Regions from separate parts of the Homo sapiens genome. Here all the other regions are linked to region 1. The links come from fine-mapping of genetic effects on gene expression. A gene starts in region 1. Each other region holds a variant in brackets. All regions are shown on one strand. Distances are from middle to middle.

Region 1 (4,065 bases):
CATTCCCCGCCCCAGGTCCACATTCCCCGCCCCAGGTCCACATTCCCCGCCCCAGGTCCACATTCCCCGCCCCAGGTCCACATTCCCCGCCCCAGGTCCACATTCCCCGCCCCAGGTCCACATTAGCTCCTTCCTACCAGGCCCCCTCCAAGGGTCTATATCACTTTCCTTGTTTCACCAAAGTTGCCTATTTTTCCCAGCTGAGCAAAAGTCTATCATACCCTAATCAGAACTCAGAAAATTCCTGAAAGGAGAGCCAGACTGATCTAGGAAACTACACACAGAGATACCCGCAGGACTGGGAAGAAAGAGAGGTCTCACATAAGACCTTGCACCCCCAGCCTTCTAGCTTCGTAGATTCTCGAGGACTCGCCACAGACTCTGTGAGTAAGGGCTGGAGAATTCTAGATGGTGGCACAAGAAAAGGTGGAGGTGTGGGGAGCAGTTTCTTGTGCCTGGGAAGGACAGACACAAACTAATATCAGAAACTGCCTCCCCAGAGGCCAGTCATGACAGAAGACAGAGAACCCCTGCGGTTCATGCTCTGGGTCCATACCAAGCTTCGCTGGGGGCAGCCCATCTGCCGGCCATGTGTGCGGCTTTCGGGGCACGATGGAGAAGCTGAGTGCTCGTCTGGGCGCCAGTGTAGCCACATGATCAAGTGTGCGCGCAGGCAGGGCAAGTGCACACAAGAACCCCCCCTCCCCCTGGGAGCACCTGTTCCGGGTGCCTCAAATGCAACAGGCCAGGAACTTCGGGGCAGGGAAGTTACTGCCACAGCAAGGGAGCTCCTGGGGGCAGGAATAGGGTTTATCACCAATGTAAACACCCCTCAGGCCTGGTTGGGGGTGGGCACCAGATAAATGCCTACTAATAGTATAAGGAAGCAAAGACAAACACCCTTTCTCTCCTGTTTCTTACGTTTCAGCTAGGAAGAGTGGGGTGAGCCGTGGCCTGTCTGGGTACCTCTCCAAACTTCCTGTTCCAGGTACAGAGAGAAGACTCAAAAGGAAGGGAGGTGAATGCCCACTCCCCCACCTCCAAGTCCAAGAACATAACACCTACACGTACACAGGTACTCCCGTGACATACACTTTGACACGGCGGTGCAGATGCAGTGTTCTCTACATTGGGGCCAAGGCGCCTCTGTCCAGGGCCCTGACAGTTTCATCCCTGCCAGATCTGCGCTCCCTAGAGCGGGCGGCGTATACCCCACGCAACCCCAGCTCCGCGCGGGTTCCACGGGCTGCAGAGGCGCTGGACTGGGATGCTGCCCCTCCCACCCCCTTTGCCTATAGAGGGTACCGAAGGCCGGGGTGGGGGATGGGGAGAGGTGGAAAGGCAGGGGGTTCCCTCCGGTTCCCCTGGAGGCTGGACTTCCAGCAGAGGCGCCCCACCCCCACCCTCCACGGCGACCACTCTGCGTCGCAACAGACCGGACGGGCCGACCCGGAGGTGGCGCGGGCAGTACCAGGCCGCCGGCGGCGCCGCAGGCGCTGAGCGAGACGAGGGAGCCGGGGTGGCCGAGCACACGGCCCGAGTAGAAGCACAGCTCGGCGGGGCGGCCGCGGCGCCGGGCCGCGCCCGCCTCCTCCACCTCGAAGCCTCGGGACAGGAAGCGCAGGTCGCGGCGCAGCTGAAGGTACAGGTCGCGCCCGAAGGCCGGCAGGTGCAGCAGCAGGGCGCGCTCTCCGGGCCGGGCGCGCGGGGCGGCTGGGGGCGTGCGGGGGCGTCGCCGCCGTCGGGGCCCGGGGGCTGCGGGCAGCGGCGGCAGGTGCACGTCGTCGGGGCGCACCCGCCACGGGAGCACCACCTCCACGTCGGCCGCCGCGTCGCCGACAGCTGCGGGGAGAGAGGAGACGCGTCAGCGCGGCGGGGCCCGCCCGGACGCCCGCCCTCCCGCTGGCCGCCAGCCGCGCCAGCGCGGGGACAGCGCGACCCGGAGCCGGCGCTGCCTTCCCTTCCCTCGCCCGGCACCTCCACGCTGGCCCGCGCCACCCGGGGAGGGTCTCCGGCGCAGCCGCGCGAGCACCTCCCGGAACGGCGCCGCGCATCGGCGAGCGGAGACCCGGCGGCGGCGCGCCTGCCACGGAGCCACCCGATTCCCGTACTCCGGCCGCGGCCCGCGCCTCCTCCGCTCGGGCGCCGTCAGCGGTCCCGCCGCCGCCCCCGGGCCGCCAGGACGCCGCGAGAACGCAGAGGGAAGGTAGCCGCAGGACGCGGGGTGAAGAGGGCTGTGGGAGGGGGCGCTACCTGTGCCCGGGTCCAGTCCCCAAACCAGCAGCAGCAGCACGGGCAGGACGAGCGGAGGCAGCAGGGCGCCGTCACACATGGTACCCGGGACCGGCAGCCCCCCCGGACCGTGGCGGCGAAGCAGGAGCGCGCTAGGCGGCGGCGCCAGCCGGAGTGAAGCCCTCCAGCCTTTGGAAAAAGTAATTAGCGCTGCGGACAAACCCAACGTGGTAAACCCCAAGCCCCGCCTTCCCCTCGGAAGGCGGGAGGGGATTGGGCCCTCGCTTTCCTCCGCCCCGCCTCCTCCTTCCCTACTGGTTGGGATGGGTCGAAACCACAGTGCGTAGTTAGGTTGTCAGCGCTTTCTTACACGTGGTTTCTGGGCAGTGGCGGGGACACGGCACCAGGTGGCGCGCGGGAGCCGACCGGAGCCGTGGGACCCTGGAAGAGCTGGAGGATGCGGGGCTGGTCTTCAGAGCTTGTCCTCATTTTGGAACTCTCTCAGCCTGCTGCCCAGTTTCCCGGGAAGGTAGGGCGGAAATCGCCCCGGCCAAGCGGTTTCATCCAAAACTGCATATAATCTTTACATCTGAAGTTAGGTTTTAGTTGTTTGTGGCCGCAAAGACTCCCAGTCCACTTTCCCGCACACCTGAGTTAGCACCTGAAGGCTATATCCGCGGCGTTTATCCAAACTCTTCACACCTCCTGTCTTCTTTAATCCCACAGGAGCCAGTGCAACACGCATGCTCACACCCTCTTACAGACTGAAAAACTGAGGAAGAGAGAGAGCTTAAGGAAAAACGCTGAAGTTACCCAGAGAGTTCCTGTTGGAGCAGAGGCTAGAATTTGTGATCCTGATTTCTGGCTTGGTGCTTCTTATTAACAGCAGGATCCCCCCGCCCCGAGGGAAGCAGGACTCAGTGTTACAGGTTAGGAAACGGAGGCACAAAGTCCCAAAGCCTAGCCTTGAACGTGAGTCTCCCAGAAACAGAATGAGTTGATCCTTTCCTGCCACAATATAACTGAGGTCTGCAGGGAAGGTGACTCCATTAGCTTGCTGAATAGCATCTTGTAGAGGCTCATGCCTGTAATCCCAGCACTTTGGGAGGCCAAGGCGGGCGGGTCACGAAGTCAGGGGTTCCAGACTAGCCTGGCCAATATGGTGAAACCCTGTCTCTACTAAAAATACAAAAATTAGCCAGGCGTGATGGCGCACACCTGTAGTCCCAGCTACTCGGGAGGCTAAGGCAGAAGAATCGCTTGAACCCGGGGGGTGGAGGTTGCAGTGAGCCGAGATTGTGCCACTGCACTCCAGCCTGGGCAACAGAGCAAGACTCCATCTCAAAAAAACAAAACAAAACCAAACAAAACAAAAAAAACAATTAAGTGTAACCATAACCAATCTCAGGTTTCCCGTCCCTTCCCTGTCCTGCTCTTTTCCATTTTATCATAGCAGAAAGGTTATAGTTCCCCGCTGGATGCTGCTTGAAGCCTCGGAATCTAAATTCATCACAGGATTACATATCATCTGAAGGAATCTATAACACTGGCCACCTTCCCCGAAATATAATGAACCCCAAGGCTGAACAGTGACCCTCCACAGAGGCTTGCCACAAAAGGGGCTGCCCTCACTGCTTGGCACCTACAGTTCTGGGGGCATCTGCACAGGTCCTGCTCTTGGCCAGGCCTGGGGCTGTGTTTCTCCCCCTTGCCTCTGTCCAGGTCAACAACCTCAGATGACTGACAGCTCAGTAGCATTTTCTGGCAGCACAAGAAACCTTGGTGATTGAGGTGATGGACACCTCATTTACCCTGATGGGATTATTACTCATT
Region 2 (4,065 bases), 420 kb before region 1:
AGAAAACAAACAAACCCAGGCCGGGCACGGTGGCTTACACCTATAATCCCAGCACTTTGGGAGGCTGAGGCGGGGAGATCACGAGGTCAGGAGACTGAGACCATCCTGGCTAACATGGTGAAACCCCGTCTCTACTAAAAATACAAAAAAATTAGCCGGGCATGGTGGCGGGCGTCTGTAGTCCCAGCTACTCGGGAGGCTGAGGCAGGAGAATGGTGTGAACCCGGGAGGCAGAGCTTGCAGTGAGCCGAGATCACGCCACTGCACTCCAGCCTGGGTGACACAGTGAGACTCCATCTCAAAAAACAAACAAAAAACACCAAACCCAAAACTTTCTATTTGCGAGGGGGCTTCAATTTTCACAAAAAGTGTAGATTCTTGCCCTCTTCCTAGTCAAATAGGGACAGATGGTTAGGAATGTGTTAGGGGAATGTTTTATTTCTTTGCTTCTGTGCTCACCCACTGAAGGTATTGAGTTCTGGGATTTCTGACTTTATGCAGGGGTCTCTGGTCAGAACTCTTCCTCCAGCCCAGCTCCCCTCTTACTTTGGTCATTTGTACCCAGCATAGTTCAGTGTAACTGTGGTTCTAGGCGACTGGAAACCAGCAGAAGCCTTCAGGACAAAATTCAGCTCACTCATACAGGATTTTGATTCCAATGGAATTTCTGCCCTCTCATTGTTTTCCTTATTTTATTGCTATCTCAGTAGAACTTTAAATAAATAAATAAAGCTAAAATTATTTTATTTGCCATTTTTATATGTAATGATCTCGGAGGGATTCTTGAACAGATGTGGTCTACAGTCTACAGCTAACATGTAGCTGCCTGCTTTCACTGTGTTCACTCTTCAGATTAATAAAATGAAAAGCAATGCTGATAATAGTGGTTTCTTTTCTTTCTGCTTTCTCCAGTAATTAGCTTATGGGGGACACTCAGAGGACAGGATTTAGGATCAGCAGACCTGGGTCTGCCTCCCATCTCCACTGCTAAGAGTTGAATCAGTCCATGCAGGCCACTCCCCATCCTCAGCCTTTTCTTCTGTCAAATGAACAATATAATCCCCTAGTTTTAGGGAATTTTGAGGAATACATCAGATTACCAAATCGTGAGTTCCTTGAGCTGATAAAGAGTGAGCACTTACTGTGTGTAAGGCAACTTTCCTAAGTGCTAGGGATACAAAAGTGAACAAAACACACAAAAAATGTGTCTGTGTGTGTGTGGGGGTTGGTGTGGATGTCCACAGGCATACATGTGTGGTAGCAGACAATAATATAAGAAAAATAAAGTAAAATATATAGTGTTTTAGGTGGTAGTAATTCCTATGTCAAACAACAGCGCCGACGAAGTAGAGGGGATAGGAATGCGTGTGTATGCCTGTGTGGGCACGTTCGCTACCTCTGCATCCCAGGCACCTAGACACGATCTGGCTCAGAGGGGAAGCTCAAAGAATGTTTGATGGATGAATTAACACTCATAGGACACTTACTACCATGCCTGGCGAATAACAGTAGCTTTTGGTTTTAGAATGGATGCAGTTGCTATTGGGCTCCCCTCTTTATGTCCAGTTGATGCAAGTAGGTTAGGGGGTCTCTAGAGGCTCACAAAGCTGTGCTTGGCTCAGAAGTTATCCAGATAAAAACTAGTATAGGAATCCAACTCCCCTCCTCCCTCCATCTTTCACCCCTGCAAATCTGGTGAGCTCCATGAAGCTTTCCTCCCCAGGTGACGTTGTTGCTGCTGTACTTAAGGGACAGCACAGGCCACCTGGGTGTGGGACAGAGCTGACACCTTCCTGTCTGGGCTCTTCCAGCCTTCACTCTAGAACGAAGCGGGAAGCCTCAGGTCCAAGGGGAGAGCCGCCGCAAAGGCCGCGTTGAACGCCGAGGTGCACGC[G/C]CAGGTACTGGCTAAGTGCGCGCCAGGGTGCTCGGGAGGGGGCGGGTGCGGGCCGCACTGCCGGGCGGGGTGCGCGAGTGAGGAGGGCGGGGTGCGCGAGAGAGGAGGGCGGGGTGCGCGAGTGAGGAGGGCGGGGTGCGCGAGTGAGGAGGGCGGGGTGCGCGAGTGAGGAGGGCGGGGGAGTGCGCGAGTGAGGAGGGCGGGGTGCGCGAGTGAGGAGGGCGGGGTGCGCGAGTGAGGAGGGCGGGGTGCGCGAGTGAGGAGGGCGGGGTGCGCGAGTGAGGAGGGCGGGGGAGTGCGCGAGTGAGGAGGGCGGGGGAGTGCGCGAGTGAGGAGGGCGGGGTGCGCGAGTGAGGAGGGAGGGGTGCGCGAGTGAGGAGGGCGGGGGAGTGCGCGAGTGAGGAGGGCGGGGGAGTGCGCGAGTGAGGAGGGCGGGGGAGTGCGCGAGTGAGGAGGGCGGGGGAGTGCGCGAGTGAGGAGGGCGGGGGAGTGCGCGAGTGAGGAGGGCGGGGGAGTGCGCGAGTGAGGAGGGAGGGGTGCGCGAGTGAGGAGGGCGGGGGAGTGCGCGAGAGAGGAGGGCGGGGTGCGCGAGTGAGGAGGGCGGGGGAGTGCGCGAGTGAGGAGGGCGGGGTGCGCGAGTGAGGAGGGCGGGGGAGTGCGCGAGTGAGGAGGGCGGGGGAGTGCGCGAGTGAGGAGGGCGGGGGAGTGCGCGAGTGAGGAGGGCGGGGGAGTGCGCGAGTGAGGAGGGAGGGGTGCGCGAGTGAGGAGGGCGGGGGAGTGCGCGAGTGAGGAGGGCGGGGGAGTGCGCGAGTGAGGAGGGCGGGGTGCGCGAGAGAGGAGGGCGGGGTGCGCGAGTGAGGAGGGCGGGGGAGTGCGCGAGTGAGGAGGGCGGGGTGCGCGAGTGAGGAGGGCGGGGGAGTGCGCGAGTGAGGAGGGCGGGGGAGTGCGCGAGTGAGGAGGGCGGGGTGCGCGAGTGAGGAGGGCGGGGGAGTGCGCGAGTGAGGAGGGCGGGGGAGTGCGCGAGTGAGGAGGGCGGGGTGCGCGAGTGAGGAGGGCGGGGGAGTGCGCGAGTGAGGAGGGCGGGGGAGTGCGCGAGTGAGGAGGGCGGGGTGCGCGAGAGAGGAGGGCGGGGTGCGCGAGTGAGGAGGGCGGGGGAGTGCGCGAGTGAGGAGGGCGGGGTGCGCGAGAGAGGAGGGCGGGGTGCGCGAGTGAGGAGGGCGGGGGAGTGCGCGAGTGAGGAGGGCGGGGTGCGCGAGTGAGGAGGGCGGGGGAGTGCGCGAGTGAGGAGGGCGGGGTGCGCGAGTGAGGAGGGCGGGGTGCGCGAGTGAGGAGGGCGGGGGAGTGCGCGAGTGAGGAGGGCGGGGGAGTGCGCGAGTGAGGAGGGCGGGGGAGTGCGCGAGTGAGGAGGGCGGGGGAGTGCGCGAGTGAGGAGGGAGGGGTGCGCGAGTGAGGAGGGCGGGGGAGTGCGCGAGTGAGGAGGGCGGGGTGCGCGAGTGAGGAGGGCGGGGTGCGCGAGAGAGGAGGGCGGGGTGCGCGAGTGAGGAGGGCGGGGGAGTGCGCGAGTGAGGAGGGCGGGGTGCGCGAGAGAGGAGGGCGGGGTGCGCGAGTGAGGAGGGCGGGGGAGTGCGCGAGTGAGGAGGGCGGGGTGCGCGAGTGAGGAGGGCGGGGGAGTGCGCGAGTGAGGAGGGCGGGGGAGTGCGCGAGTGAGGAGGGCGGGGGAGTGCGCGAGTGAGGAGGGCGGGGGAGTGCGCGAGTGAGGAGGGAGGGGTGCGCGAGTGAGGAGGGCGGGGGAGTGCGCGAGTGAGGAGGGCGGGGGAGTGCGCGAGTGAGGAGGGCGGGGGAGTGCGCGAGTGAGGAGGGCGGGGGAGTGCGCGAGTGAGGAGGGCGGGGTGCGCGAGTGAGGAGGGCGGGGTGCGCGAGTGAGGAGGGCGGGGTGCGCGAGTGAGGAGGGCGGGGTGCGCGAGTGAGGAGGGCGGGGGAGTGCGCGAGTGAGGAGGGCGGGGGAGTGCGCGAGTGAGGAGGGCGGGGGAGTGCGCGAGTGAGGAGGGCGGGGTGCGCGAGTGAGGAGGGCGGGGTGCGCGAGTGAGGAGGGCGGGGTGCGCGAGTGAGGAGGGCGGGGTGCGCGAGCGAGGGCGTCCGGCCGGCAGGTGGCACTGTGGCGTCGCCGTGGG
Region 3 (4,065 bases), 190 kb after region 1:
ACTTGAACATTGTGGGTTAATGAATAAATTAAAATTCATTATCTGGTCAGCCCTAAAGCTTTATTTCCCTTGTTTTGTGTAAAGGTTTCAAAAAAATAAAAATGCTTAACAGAACATTCTTGCTAAACATTTGCTTGGATCAGAAAAAGTAGTTTGATTTTGTTTCACTTTTCTGCATGAGACTGGCAGCCTTAGAACCGAACAGCTAATTTCTCCTGGCATGACATTGAGCACTACATCTCTCAAGACAGAAGCAGCTTAGGAAGGCCTGCCACTGTGGGGTGAGCAAGTCCCACCTTGTTCTCAGCTTAAGGCACTCTGGGATGGTCTGAAATGGCCTTTGCCACCTGGCAAAGATCTGTGCTGACCCCTTTCATTCCACCTGGATTCAGGGCTTTCCTGATAAACCAAGCTATGCTGAGCATTCAGCCGTGTGTGATTTCACTGCCCAGACCTTTCTTCCTAACCCTCAATGAATCAGTTTAAACTCGCCCGAGAGCAATGCAGGTCAGGAGTGGAAGTTTGGACTCGAAATTTACCCTCTACTACTAAACACTTCCAAGCAAAACTCTACAAAGCAAAGGGCCCCAAGTCTGTCTTTTCTGTATTTCTCCCAAACATCAGACCAAAAATGAACATTTCTTCATTTGTCCGCCTCTCCCCCAATCTCCATCTCCTCTCCCTCTCTGTTACGCACCCAGGCACACATACACACACAAGCTCACACGCGGAATCACGGCCACCTTGGTTTTGAAAGTCCTCAAATACTAACCACATCCATGGGATGGCGCCTACCTTTCTGAAATGTCAGTCCACAAAAGGTGCCCCTTGCTTGTGAAGTGTAGTCAGAGAGCAGCTTCCAACGTTCCAACCAGCTTCGTTCTCCTCAGAGAGCAGCACAACTCATCTCTGTGTAAGACCTGAAATTCCTTCAGAGACCCACCCTCCAAAGTTGCGAGTCAAGATTTCTGACTGAGGGCAGTCAGTGACGTGAGGCGAAGCTACTGGATGGCACCCTCAGGTTCTTCCTGATGGGATGTTGCTTCCTGTTTCACCACCTTGAGAAAAGAAAGCTGGAATTCAGTGAGACATTGAGTTACAAATGCATCAGTTGCCTCATCGTTGTTGCCTTTTGGTGCACACAGTCATCTGTCAACTGCTGAACAGGATGATCTTGCTGTTTGTATTAAAAGGAAAGGGCTTATGCGCAGAGAGAACCCCAAAACACCAGTCACAACCCTGTACTGTCCTAGGAGCTGGTTCGACAAGTATAGTACTCTCCAGAAAACAGGCAGGGCTTCTTACTAACTAAATCACCACCATGCCACAAAACTCATCCACTAAGGAGCATTGGTCCACAGGAATGTGATTTCTCTGCCCGCTTCCTAGGAATTGAGAAAACGATCAGTTTTTTGAAGCATATAACTGCCAAAAAATACAATAGTCTGGCAATCTTTTCTTCTTAGAACAGTCAGATATAATTCGCATTTTTATTTGTTTGTCTCTAAGAACAATCATCATAGACAAAGACAGACAAGCTCATTAGTATCAGGAAATAAACATTGTTGCTTGTCTCTGTGTGCTTGAACCACTACAATTTCAAAGGCAAGTGTGGATGCATTTTATAGTGTTTATTTGAGATATTGTACCTTTGAAGCCATTTTCACTTTCTCTTGCCTGAAGATGAAACAACTCTGGGCTTGGATTATTTAAAGGTGCTCTGACAAGTAGAGAGCTTCAACAAGTTGATTCCTGTATCTCTCACAAACCAAACATCAGCAGTACCGCCCACACTGAGAGCCTGATTCTCATTAGCTGTCTTCAACTGCTGAAAGACATTTTTCTTTTTTCATCAGCTAATAGATGACCGCAAATTAAAAATGGACTAGATGCAGATAAAGGGAAACACCAGTTTCAAATTCATTAAAGCTCCAAAGTTTCTCAGATTTCACTAATGAATTTAGTTCAAAGAGAGAGGATTGATAAACGCCCTTCCTTTCACTGGGTACTTCTCACTCAGGGCTTCC[C/T]GGTCTGCCTTTCTCTTCGAAGACGTTCTGTTTTTCAGTAATGGGCTCATGCATTTTTAAAACCATCTGGCAGAAGGGATGAATTTAAAGCAGACTTGGCCACTAACCGAGGTAGGCTCAGTTCAGGTCTGCCTCACCTTCTGCCAGGAGACCACTGCAGAATTGGTTTCCTGACATGAGGCTTCCATCTTCATCCAATTGTCACCTAACTCACATTCCCATTCTCATTTCTTTTTCTTCTGCTGATTAAACTCTACCAGCCACCTTCTACCTATAGGATCAAGACCAGACTCCTTGGCACAATGGCCTGCTCGCAACCTGCTGCTCCAGGACTTCCTTTTGCCCTTTCCCACTAGATTCCAGACACAACAGTGGGCAGCTTCTGGGCCCTTGCCATGAGCTGCTCTCTCGCCTCTGTGCCTAATGAAAGTCTGAATCCTGCTCAAGCTTCCCTAGCCTCGGCCCTCTCTGTTCTGTGGGTATACCTTTATTGCAACACCTACTACTCTATCACAACTTAACTGATTTTTGTATCTGCTTCCCCACTACTTTGGGAATCCTCACTGGACAAGCCTTAGATCTCTTTCTACCCCTGGAGCTCAGCTGTTCAATACTGGTCAAACAATTAGTACCCAAAATAGTGATCATCCAACACTCATTTTCACTCCGGGGATATCTCGGGAAAAGAATGTCCTGAACCCTATTTTGGACTCTCTTACTCAGAATTAAACAAGCCAAAAGAATATTGGGGAACCAGGCTGGGAACAGTGGCTCACACCTGTAATCCCAGCACTTTGGGAGGCCGAGGTGGGAGGATCCCTTGAGGTCAGGAGTTTGAGACCAGCCTGGCCAACATGGTGAAACCCTATCTCTATTAAAAATACAAAAAATGAGCTGGGCATGGTGGTGGGCGCCTGTAATCCCAGCTACTCGGGAGGCTGCGGCAGGAGAATTCCTTGAACCCAGGAGACAGAGGTTACAATGAGCCAAGATCACTCCACTGCACTCCAGCCTGGGTGACAGAGTGAGACTCCTGTCTCAAAAAAACAAAAAACAAAAAACAAAAAAACCAATATTGTAGAACCACATGTTTTCATGCTTTGTTTTAGTTACTTCTACAATGAAACACATGTTATTTGCTGATAAAATATAATGTTCAAATCAAATCGGAACTATTTAGACATAGTTCTATAACTCCTGTTAATCAAAAGAACCCCGTCAGCATCTGCTGTCTTTTTTGAGTCACTGTCAAGGTGTAATTCTTCCCCCTTCTTCAGGGGCAAGATGTAAAAATGAGGCTATTGCACAACTTGTGCTAGAGGAATGAGAGTGAGGAACTCGGAGGGTTTGCTGGTGAAGACTTTGTGGGAGCTGTGGGAGTGAGGAACTCGGAGGGTTTGCTGGTGAAGACTTTGTGGGAGCTGTGGACCTATGTGTAAGTCTAGTCATCTCCACAGCTCCTCTGAGGAAAATAACCCAGGGCAGGAAATAGGCTGTGTGTGGAGTTGAAAACAAAGCAAATATGGTTATCTCAAGGATTCCTAAGGTGATTCCTTTTTTCTTCTCTTTCTTACTTGTGCCTCACCATAAATGTATCAGTGCATTGCTAAGAGAAAAGATAGAACCCCAGGAAGCATTAAAGGAAAGAGCAAGATGCATGCACGTGGGTATCATTTCTCCTAGGTAGTACTTAGCTGTTTCCTTTTATGAGAAAACGGAAGCAGTGAGTTGAGACATTAAATCAGTTTTATATTGCGAATCCTCATTAATAGATATTAAATCACTTATTAGCATGTTAATGATTCATTGCATTTTAAAAAGTGAACGTCGGACCTCTGACAAATGAAATGTAGACAATTAAGCATGACAGTGGAGAGGTGTTGTCGGGAGCAGTAGGGGTGCATTACAAAGCGGGTACCGGGTGCCTTTCACCTAGTAAATTGGGAAGGAGAGGGATAGGAGAAGTGTAGACCAGAGACAAACCCAGTCAAGGTTCTGGAGAGCCACTTAGGAACTAGAAGAGGAAAACACAGTAAGC
Region 4 (4,065 bases), 310 kb before region 1:
CGTCCTCAGCTCTTGTCTACTTAAAATTGTTTTTCTAAAGCTTTGATACTCGAAGGATAGTTTAGCTAGTTATAAAATCTTGGTCTGATCTGTGAGGACATCATGCAGACCCTGAGAACTGGGAGTCTGAGTCTCATGAGTCAGAAGGAGTGGGCTGGGGAGTAGAATGAGTGCCCCGTTCTGAGACGAGTCCTACCACTTGATAGCCACACATTTCTGTGGAGTCTCCTGACCCCATGGCAGTCCCCACTGGGGAGCCCTACCCAGAGAAGTCACATGACAGGAGGCTGCTGACAAGCTGTACAGGCAGAGCCACAGACAGACCCTCTAGGAACTGTAGTGCCTGGGTGATGAGCCATCAGCTGCCATCTGTGTCCCTGCTTCATCCATAATAATATCATGGGAAGCTTACTAAGTGCTCTGCTGACCTGACCCACCACCCCAATAACACTGTCAGACAGGCGCAGAATGTTCTCATTAAACCCTCGCACATTTGGGGCACTCATGCAGCCTTCTTTTCAAAAATGCATGCAAACCATCTGCCTAAATCATCCCTCATCCTCTAGTTGTGCCAGGGGTTGACAGCACTCTGAAACGGCATTCTTCGGACCCGGCCATTTATCTGTTTGGGAAATTGAGACCCAGCCCTCAGACCACTGGCTCTGCTCTTGTCTGCTGTGATTTCTCAGAACCAGTCAGCAGAGCCTCAGAGATGACAGCTGTAAAGTTCTGTAGCATCTTGGATTGGATTTTGTCCTGGAATGGGGTTTTGGACACTTCTAGAAAATCATAACAGTGATCATAAAAATGACAAATTTAGCTCTTACTGTGTGCCAGGAACTGTCCTGAGCCATTTATTTCTCTTAGCTCGCATCATTCTCATGACAGCCCTCTGAGGTAGGAACTCTCTCAGTCCCCTGTCGTACAGACAGGTTGAGTGGCCTGCTGCAGGTCCCCTGCTGGCAGCAGCGGGGCTGAGATGGGAACCTGGCTGCTGGAGTCCTCACTCTACTGCTTCTGCTTCTCAGGGTTCCCTCCTTAGTTTTCTTGAGCTGCCATGCTCTTTGCCTGCTTTCTTCTACCTTTGCCTTCTACCTTTACCCTCCTTCTCCTTTTTGAAAAGCAGCAGTGAACCTGCACTTTGCCTTTTGTCACTTTTAGCCTTAACAGGCATCTCCTTCTCAGTTTTCCTTATTTCAAGGGCTAACTTAAAACAACCACAAAAAGTTATCTTTGTCAAACCTTTCTTAGCAAGGCTGTTTGCGGACATCTCGCTGTCTGGCCCGAGCTGCCTGCTAAGGCTCCAAACTGTTTCCTCCCTCCCATTGCTGCATGCCTCAGTGCACTTGGGTCTTTCCATCTGGTTCACCCTGAGCCACCAGGGTGAACCCCTAGTCCTGAGTATGTCTCCCATCTTATGTCTTGTTGGGTCAGTTGTGATTATGGAGTCAGAATGGAATCTTCCCAGATTTCCGCTTGGTGCTGAGCTGTATTGACTTTCTGTAGCTGTGGGAACAAAACTACCTCTACTCTGACCTTTACTTATTCTATTAATATCTTCTCAAAACATAGGGATCTA[A/G]ATTTAACCCTGCTCGGTTTCCTTTCCTGACTGTGGCAAACTGCAAAACAAAATGGCCGTTGCTTCCCAGGTTGTCACAAACCTTCCTGCTTTGTAAGAAATAAAGTCAGGGTGATGAGTCCTTTCATTCATCCATTTATGCCAGAGAGAGGAGAAATGGGGAGTGCTTTGTCTGTCAATTAGGGCATCCGGCTGCCTCATTTCCATCCCCAGCTCCAGTCACCAGAGCTGCTGCCATGCAACGCCTGGAGCCTCCTGCAAAGTCCTGCCTTCAGTCTCCACTTGGTTAGGTCTCTGCTTTGTGGCTCTCTCCCCTCAGTGGCCTGGGCTCTGGGCCCTGAAGTCTTCAGGAGATGAGGTAACCGACTACCTTTCCCTCCTAGATAAGCCCCATACTCTATCTCTACTGAAGGATTTTTGCATCTGCTGTTAGATTCAAGTCATGGGACCCAATTCACCAAATCTGGTGATTTCCACCATGCTTTCTGAGTTAAAATGTCAAGGGACCTTCGTTACTATATGCTGGTGGTTCTCAATGCAGTCCCTGGACCAGCATCATGAGTGCTATCAGAGCCCTAGCTAGAAATGTAAGTTTCCAGGTCTCACTCTGGATGTACTGAATCAGAAGCTCTGGGAGTGGGGCCCAGCACTCTGTCAGTTACCCAGTCTCCTGGGGATTTCAGCACAGTAGAGCCACTAGACATATTGGGAAAATAATCACCCGAGGCCTGAGCCTTGCTTCGGATCAGCTCTCTGAGAGGTGCTGGCCCCCAGATCACCCTTTGTCCTCCCTGACAACTCACTGGGCAGGTGCAGCTGAAATGTTTTTCCCTCCCTGTTCTCATGATTCAGGGTAAAGCTCTCTCCCCCTGGCCAGGGAACATCCTCTTCCCAGGAAGCGGATTAAGAGTCGTGGAAGGAAAACACGACTGAGCCATGTGCACGGTGTGGGCCAGGGCACGTTCATTACCTCCTCAGTGCTAATTTCTGCCCTTAATGTCGTAAGGAATTCCTTTTGGAAATTATGTACTTCAATTTCATCAGGCTCCTTCCTTCAGTGGTATTTAAACCCAAATACAGGTTAGCAGACAGAAGTGCTGGCAGGAACCAGCCTTTCACATCCACCCACAAATGCAACCTCCTCACGCTCCCCCTACCAGGGCTCCAGTGGTCTGTAATGAGCCACCTGGGCATGGCACATCTGTGAAATCTCTAGTCACGCGCTGAGCCTGAAATCCAATCTTCGGGTTTGAATGATGCTGAGACCCTCCCATGATCCTTTTTCCTTCCCTAGTCTTACCCCCATCCTGCTGATGATACTATCTAAAGTTCACAAGTAGAGAGCTCAGAAGCATTCAAGAGGTTAGAAATGAACCACTCAAGACTTTTCTGCTGTTGCAATTTACTCTGAAATACGTATAAATTATATGATCTTGTTCTGACAAGAAGGGGAATGTTAGTATACTCTGGGACCTGCCCGCAATCTTTTACTATCTGGAAAATACCAGCATGGGTTTAGATTATGTAGTTATAACTGTATTAAAAATGTGTGTGTGCACGCTCACATGTGTATGTGTGAGGAGTGTCTTACGAAATAATGGATAACCCACAAAATGTTGGGGTCCAACAGCTGGCTGATGTTCATCATCGATATAGTTTTGTAGTTGAGCAGTGATGATAGTTTTGGCTGGCGTTCACGGAGTGCTGACTCGGGGTGAAGGAATTTATAGGCATTACTTCACTTCATCTCCTCAAGACTTCTATGACAGATGTTCTCATTTCCCATGTTTACAGATGGCAAGATCATGTAACTTGCCCGTGGGTTTGCATGCAGCTAGGGGTGAGGTGGGGACCTGAGGTCAGTCTCTCAATGCCCACCATGTGAAGCTGCCCCTGGGTGAAATGGATGGAGCATTTCATTCTTTTTCTGGCTAGCTACCGAACCTAACAAATTGCATGTCTTCCTGCCTCTACATGATAAGTAGATGATGATCTTGCTATTGCTTCCAACTTTAAACAAATCCATTTCAATAAAGGCTGCTGTAAAGCATGAGCAGGTAAAGGAAAGATTTAAAATATGTCTGCAGAAACTGCTGCTGAGAGTGGAATGAGTAGGACTAGAGGAAGAAGTCAAGGTGGGCTATGGGTAGGACACAGCATGGGTAAAGTCGACCACAGGCTCTACCTAGAGAGGGTGAATGATTTAACTAGAAGACAATCCAACATACACCAGGGTCCTAAACCAGCCTCTGATTTCCACCCCTTCATCAACGGAGCATCTGTCCAGACCAGACATCTGTCCCCTAATGGGTAAATGCTCATGCCACCGGAATGAAATCTCATTTTCGACATAATGCCGCTAACCATAGAGATGAGCAATTCTGGGATGACTGAGGCACATTCCCTCCACCAGTATCAAACAATCCATTTATCTGTTCAAATGACTTACTAAGACCTACTAAGCTCTAGGCGCTGCTGGGCACTGG
Region 5 (4,065 bases), 110 kb before region 1:
GAGTGCCCCCTCAGCCAGATCTCGCTGTTCAAATCCAGATCTGTGTTTCAACCATCTCCTGAACACTTCCACCTGGATTTCTCACAGGCTAAAGTCAAACCTCTGACTCAGGCCCAGCTCCAAATCAAAGTGGGTTCACCTCAACCCAAATAACCACTGTCTGTTCTGCTGGGAGCAAAACTGAGATCCTCTGTCTTTCCCACCCACATCAGAAATCCTCACTACCCCCTCCAATCCTCCCCATTCCACCTCCAATTCATTACTAAGTCATGTCAATATGGAGATCTCAGATCCACCCACTTTTCTTTATCTCCCCTAAATGACTGTACACTTGGCCGCAAGTAATAGAAAACAATGGTTTAATCAGAGACGAGACACCATTGCTCAACACAGAAGTCTGGAGAGGCAGGCGGCCCTGGATTGATCAGGCAGCCCAGTGATGGCACATCGCTGGATGGACAGATCTGTGGTCCTCCTGGCCTTTCCCTCATGGTCCCAAGACAGCTGCAGAAGCCCTAAGCACTGTCCTCACACAGTAGCTTCCCAGGGTGGAAAACCTTTCTCTGAGGCTGCCAGCAGGCCTTTGCTTAGATTTCCCTGGGCTACGTGGGATTGCACAGCCACTGCTGCAAGGGAGACCAGGTAAGTGATTATCCAGGAAAAGGAATGGACTGTCGTGACCGGCTTCATCACCTGAGGGTGGGCACACAGCCCAGCAATGTATAAGAGAGGGGCATGGCTGCTAAGTCCACAACTAGCAATACCTTCCAAACCCACTGTTATCTTAGAGCAACGGCTTTCATTCCTGACCTTGCTCCCACTGCAGTAAACATGGCCACGTCATCTGCCCATAGCTCTTTGATGATGAATCCCGACACTCAGATAAAATCCACGACGCTTTGTGGAGCCCTCAAGGCCCTGCAGATACAGCCCTGCCTTATTTCTCACTACTGGGCCTCCTTCATGTTCCTCAAATGCTCCAAACTCTTTCTTGCTTCAAGGCTTTCAGAAGGGGCCATCTCCTCACCTACACGCTCTTTCCCGAAATCTTTACATGGCTGACTCCTTCTCACAGTTCGGATCCTAGCCTTGATGTTACCATCTCCGAAAGGCCTCAGAACAGTCTACTTTGACACCATCCAGCGCGTGACCTCTGCATTCAAGAAACCTGGCCCAGTTTATCATCATATCTATTTGTATGACAAGTTCTTTTATGCCTGTCACTCTGATTAGACTGTAAGTGTTCTGAAGGCAGGAATCTCATCTGCTTTGCACATCACTATAATACTGGTACCATACGCAAAGCCTGACAGGTACAGAGGCTCATGAACACTGCTGAATTCATTATTGATCAATTAGTGCATTAATGAACTAACTGAAAGAGGGACTGGACCGAGGAGAAAAGGAAAACTCGAGGGTGAGAGTGAGCAGGTACATTTAGGGCAGGATGAGGACACAGACCCAGCCCAAGTGGACATGTGAGAGACCACGAGAGAGCGCTGAACAGACACAGGCAGGTGAGGGCATGAAACGTCAAATGCCACACTTGGCATGCTCTTGGAGAACTCCTATTCTCTACCCCTCGTGTTTCCATGCAGAGTGAGGTCTGCCACAGCAATGCTCTGCCTGGCAAGGGCAGGTGACTTGTCTGTCCAATGGTCTGGGGGAAGGAGCTGGCCTGCTCACTAGCCCCCCAACCCCAGCTCTCCCTGCCTACCTGTGGGAGGATGGGGCCCTGTGGTGGGCTCACCACCCACAGTGTCACCTGCCTCTACGAGGGGGCCATTGCCCTGCGGTCCTGTCTGTGACAGTTGCAGAAGAGAAGTTGGATAGTGCTTCCGTTAAATTTCAGGGAGCAAATTGGATCATTCTAAGGTGAAACATTCAGTGACATTTGGGCCCCCTTCTCCAATCAGCTTCCTTGGTAGTAATGCTCACAGACACTGTGACTACCACTGGTTCCAAGCCTGGGAGGGGAAGATGGTTCTTATGGAGTATCCCTGAAGACCCCAACAGAGTAGCTCACCACTGACACTGCAGGTGCTGAGGAGCCAGCACAGCTTTAAGTCCTGCACAACCCAACAGCTTGCAAATAGGACGCAAAGATGGTTTCAGGCTATGAATCACTCTCCCTCCTAGGTAGCTCTCCCCACCCCCTCCCCACATTGACAGAAGTGACCATTGACTGGACTCCCAGGCCTCTTATCTAATATCCTGCCCTGCAACTCTGACGTGAAACATGAGTGTTGCTGATGCCTTCCCTTGCAAATTCCTGCCTTACAAATCTCTGCTGATGTCTTGGTCCATGGGACAATCACTCTTATTTCAGTGGCTTCTGTTCTATGACGCACAGTGGTTCTGCCTGTTGACCTGGATGCTCACTTCACATTCAGGAAGTCTTCTCTCTGGACTGAGAACCACAGCAAGGCTGGTCCCGCTAAACTAAAAAGGACCCAGTCTCCTGGCTGCAGTCCAAAGGATCCACCCTCTGTTGACCTCAAAGAATCATATGATGTCCCAGAGGC[A/G]ACCACTCAAAGGTCACATGATCCGTTGAAGATGCTGACACGCCTCCTCCCACAACAAAACACCCACAGAGCCTCAGGAGAACTAACTGCAAAGTTCCCTCTCCCTGACCAAATGCAAACATCTTCCTTTGAAGTGTAGACAGAGAACGCAAGGGCAACTCTCTTGCAGTGGTGAAGTATGGAGCTCCAGTGAGCAGGTGGACACAGAGCCAAGATGAAAGGCCACAGCACCTTCCCTGACCAGCAGGAAATTGCCACACAGTCACCTGAGATGATCAGTGCAGGGAAAGCCTGCCTGTGTTGGCCTCCCTCACAGCTAAGGAGGATGCACCCACAGCACATCAACTAGCTCCAACTCACTCTGCCCCCACTGCCAACCACCCATCCCATGCTGAAGTCCTAGAAGTTTCCTGGCCAAGCTGCACGAGCATAACCAACACCGGGCACTTAAACATAACCAGGGGCATATTAACTGAGAAGACAACTCAGAATAAGTGGTTTTCTCAGTTAAACTTTCTCCGCAGTTTGGGCTTGCAGAAGAGCACAAACACGTCACGAATGACACCCGCGGTGCACGAAAGCCACACTTGCAGACCCCTATCTTTGTGGTACCTTCAAAGAGAACTCCACATTCTACAGAGCGTCCAGTGGGTCTCCACATCAGATGCGCATCCAGGGCTGAGGGCAGGCTAGATAGTAACAGATTCCTGTGTATAACTCTTTCCAGATGCTGGCTGGTACAGAGTTGGAGGAGAAGTCATCCATGCCATAGACACACGAGCTAATTCCAAACCTCACAGCAGGGAGGGATCTGAGGCCAGCAATGGTGCAAGGAGAGCAAGGGGTGGAGGAAACGGGGTTAGACTGGGATGGTCTGCAAATTGCAATGGCATCATAGCCGAAAAGTTCCTGAAAAGTCTAATTGTCCTGAGGCATCTTCATAACAGCTATCTCAGGCCTGACCACTGGGTTGAGATGGGAGTGACTGGCATTTAACACTTTTTTCGGGTTTGATCACTCAGCAAAAGCTTAGGAAGTATTGCATTTTGAATGAAAGCATTTATTGTTTAAATGAAGGCACCAATAGTGGGTAACGACAATGCTTGGAAGAAACAAAATTATAAAAATGAATTTAAACACACACACACCTAGCTTCGGAAACATGTCCACTGTTGATACCAAACACCTCCTGAAACAGGTGTTGGGACTGCCTGGGGACCCAATTAGGAAGCCATCACTCTGTCTCCCAGCAGCCAGGGGACAAGAACAGCCCACGGGGGGAGGAGACAGAGGGATTAGCAATAAAGCAAGGTATGTCTTGGAAGGCAGCCACCCTTTCCACCTGGTGCTGAGAACTCTGTTGGCACCAAAAGGAATTGTGAAGTTGGCAACCCCATCAGAACACAGAGAGAGCGCCTGCACATCCTGGGAGGAAGATAATCCAAAGCAGTCTTTAAAATAAATACTTCCATCAGGGAATTTAAGTACTTTGTATCTAGCAATGGTGTGCCTCATTATTTTCAGGACCGTGTTATGTTAT
Region 6 (4,065 bases), 220 kb before region 1:
GGCTGCCCATCAGCCACCACGAGGCCTGAAGGACAGCCTGACTCACTGACCAGTCATCGGGGTGTGATGGGTTTTTTAATTTGAATTTTTACTATCAATCGTTTCTAGTTTTTCTGTTCTAGGACTTTTTTTTTTTTGGACAGAGTCTTGCTCTGTCATCCAGGCTGGAGTGCAGTGGTAAGATCTCGGCTCACTATAACCTCTGCCTCCTGGGTTCAGGTGATTCTTGTGGGTCAGCCTCCTGAGTAGCTAAGATTACAGGTGTGCGCCACCATGCCCGGCTAATTTTTTTGTATTTTTAGTAGAGATGGGGTCTCATCATGCTGGCCAGGCTAGTCATGAACTCCTGGCCTCAGGTGATCCATCCGCCTTGGCCTCCCAAAGCGCTGGGATTATAGGCATGAGCCACTCTGCCAGGCCTGTTCTAGGACTCCTAAACGTGAATAAAATAGAAGCTTAGATACAAAACCAAACGGCTTGCATGGCTACTTCACAAGAAAAGGATATCCAAATGGCAAATAAGGAAACAGAAGTTCGGCCTCACTGTTGATGAGGAAAGTACCAATTCCCCAGCCAGATACTGCTACACACGCATCCGAACGGCCAAAACCAGAGAGAATTACTGACAACACCGGTGTCAGTGAGGACATGGGGCAAGTAGAAAGCCACCCCAGCCACGGCAATGGAGATGGCACGGCCATTCTGCAAAGCTGGCAGCTGTTATGTGGTCACACATGCGCGCCCCAGGGGCCAGCAACTGCCCTCCTACTGTACTGACATATACCTGCACGTGCGCCCCAACACACATGCTCGACCGTGATGAGCAATACTGTGCACGGAGCTGTGCTTCTTTGTATATTCTACCTTCATAAGTTTGTTTAAAAATAAGCAAAAGAGTAAGGTAGAGAGGCTTTGGTGAGAAACCGAAAGCGTGGAGAGAAAGGTGAGCTCTACCCCAAAATTTCCCAAGCGCCTGCAGAACAAGGACCGTCTCCTGCTGAAGTGGAGTCCTCAGGGCCTTGATAGACACAAGCCCAGAGCAGAGAAGCAGCAAAGGTTTGCTGAGACCAACAGGATCATATGGCAGAACATCTGCCCCTTTCTTTGAGAGTGGATGGACAGGTAGAATCAAGAGAGGCTGGAAGAGAAAGATGCCACTTTTTATTTTCAGGTTTGCTGTATTAAATGAAGACAGACCAGAAGATAAAGTCACAACAGCAGTTCGGACCAGCTTCACCATCCAGAGACACAGGACGCTCAGTACAAACCTGGCAGTTCTGGTCCCTGCCCTGGCGGCCCCTGGCTCTGTGAGCTCTGAGAAGAGAGCAGGGCAAAGCCATAGGGTTTCAGAAGTGCTGCGAGCTGCTAACGCACCCTCAGGGCAGCAGACATCCCAGGTTTAAGGCCTCCTCTGAAAGGTGTCCAAGTAACACATGTAACTTATGCTTCAGTGTAGAATACTTAAATTTTTAAAAATTATCCATATGAATGCCAGATCGCTGGCACATGGAAAGCACATAGATGGGGTTTCACTGTGGAAGCAAAAACCAGTTACAGGCACATAACCTTACACCAGCCGTCCTCCCGCCGTCTTAGCAGGCTAGCCGCCTTCCTCTCCCTTTCTGGTGCATGTGGGCGGCACCTCATGATGACCCTGCTGTGTCCCAGCTCTGCACTCCACTCTCCTGCCCCTGCTGCACCTGCTGGGATGCAGCTGGCTTTTCATACAAGTGCATCTGAGCCTTCCTCTCCCCTCCCTCCCCAGCTCTTCCCCACACACAAACTGTCGAGGGGTAACAGAAGGTAAATTAGAGATGCATTTTCTACCCTGCAGTCTTCTGACGTAACTCCCACCAACAGCAACATAAATTATAGCAGGAAAGGACGGGCCTAGGGAGTCGCTTTGGAAACACCGATGGTCCCTAAGGCCTCCACGTCAGCTAGCAAAAAATAAAAATTCCAAGAGCTGTGAAGACCAAGACTAAAAAAAATAATTGTGTGTGGGGGGACTCTCTTGCCAGTATTTTTGGACAGTGAATAAACCAGCTGCAGAAGACAGGGAGCAGAGCCAGGAATATAAAGTGAAGGGGGTGAGAAGGGGGTCGTGGGAGCGTTCCAAGCCTGAGACCTACATAGCAGTGAATTTGGGACAACCTTGTGAAATCTCTAGGCAGCAGGCCTGGTGATTTAAGGAGTGAGACGGGGAGAGGACGTTGTTTTCGTCAGAGCTT[G/C]GCTCTGAGGCCCTGGTCAGCTGCGCTTTGTAACCATCACTACCATCAGGGCATCCTGCAGAAGCAGGCTGGAGGCTGCAGCCTGGACTTCATAAAACACGCCACATCCTGCGTCTCTTTGGGAAGCCCCGGAGATGGCTGGTAATCCACCCACCCAAGGCCTGTCCCGCCTCTTCCCATTCACCTGGGCTGGATCCATGGAGGCAAGAAACTCCATAGAAAACTACATGGGAAAAAGGAGCATGTTGTTTTCATTCACAACAGAAAACAGAGCTACGGTGCCACTGCGAAAGATCGAAGAGACTACCAAGGTGTAAATATTATAGGAGCAAAAAGGTATCACTTCTCTTACTGGGGAAAAACAAGGCTGGGTTCTGTGTTGAAGCTTGTTCTCAAGGTGATGCCGAGCACTCCAGACTGAGATGCCACCTTGCTGGAGAAGGGCAGGCACAACAGGTGACAGATAGGCCTCATGTGGCCGTTTATAGCATCTGGGCCTCAGTGAGGGGAGATGATACAAGGGCATGAGGTCTACCTGGTGGTCTGCCACTTTTGGCCTAATCGTTTATGATCAGCTTTGTGTTTCAGTGAAAAAATGATATTAGGGATGTGTTTTGGAGGCACTGGTATTGCAGAGAGATTGGTTTTCTGGGGCAAGTGCACATCCAGGCAGGAAGGCAGTCAGCACATTTTATGGAGTGGCCGCTCTGCTGTGGGCACGGAAGGCAGCATGGTGTCCAAACAGGTGTGGCCTGTCCCGGGCCTGCACAGAGCTCTCAGCTCAAAGGCCAGTGGGGAGGACACAGTCAAAACAAGTGAGCAAATACATAACAACAATATCAGCTGTTGTAACACGTGTAACGTAAGGAAGAGGTGCCGAGGGAGACTTAAGCAGCACCCCATTTGAAGCAGGCTGTCAGGGGCAGAGATCTCTTGAGAAGACATTTACACTAACACCCAAAGAAAGGAAAAGGGTAAGTTAAGGAAAGGGAAGACAGCACTGGGGAGGGTCCTGGGGTTAGAATGCTGTGGCCGAGAGCACAAAGGAGGCTTCGAGGCTGCAGGGGGCTGAACGGTGGGTCCCCTCGGCCTCAAAAGATAGTCCACTCGGAACCTGCAAATGAGACCTTATTTGGCAAAAGGGCCTTGGCAGATGTAATTAAGCTAAGGATCTGGAGATGAGACCATCCTGGATTTGGGTGGGCCCTAAATCCAATGACAAGCGTTCTTCCAAGGGAAGAAAAGGTGAGAGGACACACAGAGAAGAGACCACGTGAAGTCAGAGGCAGAGATGGAGGTGATGCACCTCCAAGCCAGGGGAGGCCAAGGGTTGCCGGGAGCCACGAAACGGATTCACCTTTGGAGTTTCAAGAAGGAAGCACTGTGCTGACACCTTGATTTTGGACTTCTGGTTTCTAGAACTGGGCTCCAAACGTGGCCTGCCGCTGCCTCGTGTGTGACGTTGGGCAAGTTACCAAACTTCAATGTGATTCTATTTTTTGTTTGTTTGTTTGTTTTGTTTTGAGATGGAGTCCCACTCTGTCACTCAGGCTGGAGTGCAGTGGTGTGATCGCAGCTCACTGCAAACTGCACCTCCCGGGTACAAGCGATTCTCCCGCCTCAGCCTCCCAAGTAGCTGGGATTACAGGCATGTGCCACCGCACCTGGCTAATTTTCGTACTTTTAGTAGAGACAGGGTTTCACCATGTTGGCCAGGCTGGTCTTGAACTCCTGACCTCAGGTGATCCACCTGCCTCAGAATCCCAAAGTGCTGGAATTACAGGCATCAGCCACTGGGCTCGGCCCCCTGATAAAGTTTTTTTTTTTTTCTGTA
Region 7 (4,065 bases), 290 kb before region 1:
TCTTATGCCTGTCTTTACTGTAATCTCTAAACATAAATTGTGAAGATTTCATGGACACTTATCACTTCCCCAATCAATACCCTTGTGATTTCCTATGCCTGTCTTTACTTTAATCTCTTAATCCTGTCAATTTGTAAGCTGAGGAGGCTGTATATCGCCTCAGGACCCTGTGATGATTGCGTTAACTGCACAAATTGTTTGTAGAGCATGTGTGTTTGAACAATATGAAATCTGGGCACCTTGAAAAAAGAACAGGATAACAGCAACATTCAGGGAACAAGAGAGATAACCTTAAACTCTGACTGCCGGTGAGCCAGGCAGAACAGAGCCATATTTCTTTTCTTTCTAAAGCAAACGGGAGGAAATATCACTGAATTCTTTTTCTCAGCAAGGAACATCCCTGAGAAAGAGAATGAGCCCCTGAGGGTAGGCCTCTAAAATGGCCCCCCTGGGTGTGGCCGTCTTCTATGGTTGAGACAGTAGGCATGAAATGAGCCCCAGTCTCCCATAGCGCTCCCAGGCTTATTAGGATGAGGAAATTCCCGCCTAATAAATTTTGGTCAGACTGGTTGCTCTCAAACCCTATCTCCTGATAAGACGTTATCAATGACAATGGTGCCCGAAACTTCATTAGCAATTTTTCGCCCCGGTCCTGTGGTCCTGTGATCTCGCCCTGCCTCCATTTGCCTTGTGATATCTTATTACCTTGTGAAGTACGTGATCTCTGTGACCCACACCCTATTCACACACTCCCTCCCCTTTTGAAAATCCCTAATAAAAACTTGCTGGTTTTACGGCTTGGGGGCATCACGGAACCTGCTGACATGTGATGTCTCCCCCGGATGCCCAGCTTTAAAATTTCTCTCTTTTGTACTCTGTCCCTTTATTTCTCAAGCCAGCCGACGCTTAGGGAAAATAGAAAAGAACCTATGTGACTATTGGGGGCAGGTTCCCCAATAAAAACATGCTTCTCGAATGGAGCCCTAAGACCTTTTTGCTCAATCATGCCCTTGAGCTCATGCTGACCTCTCCTCCTCCATCGTCTCTTACCCTATTTTCTAATCACTTCACCAGGGCCAGGCCATCTTTAGTTTCCAGAGAAGAGGCTGTAGCCTGTTAGACTGCTGAGTCTTTACAGTGGCAAATCCTCCATTCTGTGGCCCCTGAATATGACCTGATGGACTGATCGATAGGTTCGTGGTACAGCTGCTCATACCGAGGTGCTCAAGCAGATTTCCTGCAGTGAGCTCTTCCTCCAGGCCTTCAGCATTAGGGTGGAATTTCATTCTTAATTTGGCAAGGAGCACAGAAAATCATCACAGCAAGCCTCACCTTCTTTTTTTCCTTCCTGTCTCCTCTCTTTCTCACTCAAACACATTTTAAGAGTTTGACAAAACAAAGGGGGTCGGTGCAAAAGCCAAATATGTTGTGAAGCTCTTGTACTAGGCAAGCGGCACAAATTGAGTTAAGAAACCTAGAAAATGGAAATACTAAACACCTAGCCTAGTTAGAAAAGGTCAATATGCCTCAAATGATACACAGAACCACAAAGCAAAAACCATTCACCTCAATTCACAGCAGGACGGAAGGCCAAAGGGTGACATGCCACAACGTAATGGATTCATTATTAAAGTCCCGCTAAAATGACTCAAAAAGAGGAGGCTTAGCTGATGAACGCATTTCACACAATTCATCTCCTGACAACCCAAGAGAGTCCACAAGGGTAACACGGCCATGAAAGCTGGGGCTGGGACAGAAGTTCTGATGGATCCCGAAGAATAAACACCAAGATCCACACTCACTGGCATGAATTTCAGCCACTGAAACAGGTCACCCACAACATTAGCCTGTGTGCACCTTTCTCCTGGGCACTCAGACTCCAATATTTGTTTCCTTCTCCACCAAGACAAAGTAATTTGGGGAAGCCAATGGTTAAAAGTGTGTGGTGATGGCCATTTTTTTTTTTTTTTTTTTTTTTTTTGCCATGAGATGTTACTAATGGTCTCCTACACAATGCCTTCCAGTGAAGGTTGTATTTCCATCAGAGTCCTGGCTTAGTAGCTGGAAATTTGGTAATTTGAGCAAGCGGAAATCTCTCATCAACAATAACGGAACACAGCATAGAGCAGTACTGTGGCATTAACTGCATATCACTCCCCACCACTGATGGTGCTGCCGCCCCAGACTCTGGTGGGTCCAAGCTACAGAACCCAGCTTCTTACCGTGACTGGCAGGGGTGCAAGTTGCACCTTCGGACCTGGGGCTCTGGGCGGCTTGCTTGAGGGCAGTCACTGTCGTTCACCAGAGTTGTGGTCTTGTTGACAATCCGTGTACACGAGAC[G/A]ATGGTTCTGCGCTCCCCTGGAAACCAAACCACAGGGAGCTGAGAGACTGTGGCTGCACCCACGTGGAAAGGCTGGGCTTGCATGCCCATGAAAGCATGTTTGGGTGCTGCTGATGGTCACTTGGTCATTTAAAGTGACTGCTGTAAATGTCATGTGGGTTTTTAGAGAGGAAGAACTATAATCGTAGGGAGGAGAGTACAAGACACAGAAGGCAGAGTGGGGCCCTGGAAGATTCTAGAACAAGATAAGAAAGCAGCAACACCTCAGATCAGCGGTGTCCTTGGACAGCTTGGGGTTCGTTGATTTGGGCCTTTGATTTCCAAAGATTGCTCATCTTTTTATCTGCTTGTTTGATGTTTAAAGTCTATGGAGATCTGATCTCAATTAAAGACCTGCACATCAGCCCTCAGCAGAGTCTGGCTACCTATTACAGAATTCCTGCTTGCTGGGGAGAAGTGGGAGATGAGGAGTCTGGTCTGGAAGACACACAGACCTGCATCCTCTAGACAGGCATTCCAGAGCCATTCTGACTTGTCTAGCCAGCCAGCTGGTACTTATGGCTGAGCCCCCACCTGCTCTTGGGAAGCTTTGCTAATTCATTATCCCAAATAGATGTAGCCCTTCTTATAGGTGTTCCCAGAGCACCCTAAACACTGCACGGCCATGCCTTTGTCACCCTAAATACTGCACGGCCATGCCTTTGTCAGGCAGGCTGAGTGACTGGGAGTTAGGAGGGTGGCCCTTGGAGCCAGGCTGTCTGGGTTCAAGTCTTGGCTGTATCACAAATAGCATCACAGTGGCCATAGTGTCAACAGTTGGCCACCATACTTCTGTGTCTCAGTTTCCTCAAGCAGCCTGGTTTGCTTAACTTCCCTGTGCCTCAGGGTGCCTCAGTGATGATTAAAATAAACAAATATATATGGTGTCCATAGAACAGAACCTGGCAGGTGGCTAACACTTCATCTTAGCTCTATTGCTGTCATTATTATTATTTGGGAAGAGTGACAATAAAAGATTAATAGGGAGTCAAGCACAACTATTTGGATCCTGGGCTCCCTGCTGGGTCTGTGTCCTGGGCAATTTGTCATGTAGGGATGACTCGAAATCATGGAGACCTGAACTCCACTGCCAGTTGCTGCTGCCCCACATGGCAGCCTCGCATGAGTACAGAAAGCACGGAACTGCTTTCAGCTTTGGTGGCAGGTCTGACCACTGTGTTAGGAAGCTGGAAGTCATCAGTGTCATAAAAGGATTGCCACCAAGCCAACAGCAACAGAACAGCCTGCCCCTGACCCCAGGAGAGCCTGACTATTCCATGTGGGCTATGCTTAGTTTGTAACAAGCTGCCCAAGAGGAAAACCTGGCTGGAATCAGAGGTAGATGTGTCAGCTGGATTTGGAGGTTGAAAGGCCATCGGCACAAGCGGCAGCTAAGGGCTGAGGGGGAGAAGGCCCCCCGGGGAGAGGTGCAGAGTGGAGGATGCAGGGCTGATGGTGGTATCCGGAGGCTATGCCAACTGCCGCAGGGCTGTTGCAGGAATAGGCTAAGCACAGACAGTGAGGGTGGTTGGCCAAGATGCCCAGGAAGAAACTCCTGTGTGTCTATAACTCCTACCCATGAAAAATGGGATGAATCCCTTAAATGGTAAGCAATGCTTTACATATTGGACATCTAACAAAAGTTATCCAAGCAGTCAATAGGTGCTCAGGACTAGGGATGGCGG

Direction of the effects. Positions count from the first base shown, and alleles are read on the strand shown. Sizes are in standard deviations (SD) of each study's normalised expression. Not every link is listed here.
For the expression in aorta of the gene that starts at base 2,408 in region 1, G is the low allele of the variant in region 4 and A is the other (small effect, 0.38 SD a copy in GTEx).
In carriers of allele G in region 6, the expression in caudate of the gene that starts at base 2,408 in region 1 tends to be higher than with C alone (moderate effect, 0.45 SD a copy in GTEx).

What was found.
Region 2: its variant is fine-mapped to the expression of ADAMTS17 in whole blood (TOPMed, PIP above 0.99).
Region 3: its variant is fine-mapped to the expression of ADAMTS17 in whole blood (INTERVAL, PIP 0.99).
Region 4: its variant is fine-mapped to the expression of ADAMTS17 in aorta (GTEx, PIP above 0.99).
Region 5: its variant is fine-mapped to the expression of ADAMTS17 in whole blood (TOPMed, PIP above 0.99). The same link has a PIP of 0.9 or more in blood mononuclear cells and naive CD8 T cells.
Region 6: its variant is fine-mapped to the expression of ADAMTS17 in caudate (GTEx, PIP above 0.99). The same link has a PIP of 0.9 or more in nucleus accumbens and putamen.
Region 7: its variant is fine-mapped to the expression of ADAMTS17 in nasal epithelium (TOPMed, PIP 0.98).

What each region holds. Positions count from the first base shown.
Region 1 is chr15:100,339,568-100,343,632 of GRCh38, forward strand. ADAMTS17 (ADAM metallopeptidase with thrombospondin type 1 motif 17) reads right to left here and starts at 2,408. Exons shown (of 22, transcript NM_139057.4): 1 at 2,254-2,408; 2 at 1,472-1,842. The coding sequence starts at 2,332. RefSeq lists an enhancer at 742-1,260.
Region 2 is chr15:99,924,451-99,928,515 of GRCh38, forward strand. No RefSeq gene overlaps it. Among named protein-coding and RNA genes, the nearest start is that of LYSMD4, 190 kb to the left of the region's middle. RefSeq lists an enhancer at 3,914-4,065 and a silencer at 3,930-3,989. The variant G/C (reference allele first, on the strand shown) is at 1,895.
Region 3 is chr15:100,528,018-100,532,082 of GRCh38, forward strand. CERS3 (ceramide synthase 3) reads right to left here and starts at 933. Exons shown (of 12, transcript NM_001378789.1): 1 at 796-933. The variant C/T (reference allele first, on the strand shown) is at 2,028.
Region 4 is chr15:100,027,732-100,031,796 of GRCh38, forward strand. The region is part of intron 18 of ADAMTS17 (ADAM metallopeptidase with thrombospondin type 1 motif 17); the gene reads right to left. Among named protein-coding and RNA genes, the nearest start is that of LYSMD4, 300 kb to the left of the region's middle. The variant A/G (reference allele first, on the strand shown) is at 1,580.
Region 5 is chr15:100,227,130-100,231,194 of GRCh38, forward strand. The region is part of intron 7 of ADAMTS17 (ADAM metallopeptidase with thrombospondin type 1 motif 17); the gene reads right to left. Among named protein-coding and RNA genes, the nearest start is that of ADAMTS17, 110 kb to the right of the region's middle. The variant A/G (reference allele first, on the strand shown) is at 2,526.
Region 6 is chr15:100,123,846-100,127,910 of GRCh38, forward strand. The region is part of intron 12 of ADAMTS17 (ADAM metallopeptidase with thrombospondin type 1 motif 17); the gene reads right to left. Among named protein-coding and RNA genes, the nearest start is that of ADAMTS17, 220 kb to the right of the region's middle. RefSeq lists an enhancer at 1-618. The variant G/C (reference allele first, on the strand shown) is at 2,232.
Region 7 is chr15:100,046,635-100,050,699 of GRCh38, forward strand. It overlaps ADAMTS17 (ADAM metallopeptidase with thrombospondin type 1 motif 17), which reads right to left. Exons shown (of 22, transcript NM_139057.4): 18 at 2,223-2,358. Among named protein-coding and RNA genes, the nearest start is that of ADAMTS17, 290 kb to the right of the region's middle. The variant G/A (reference allele first, on the strand shown) is at 2,342.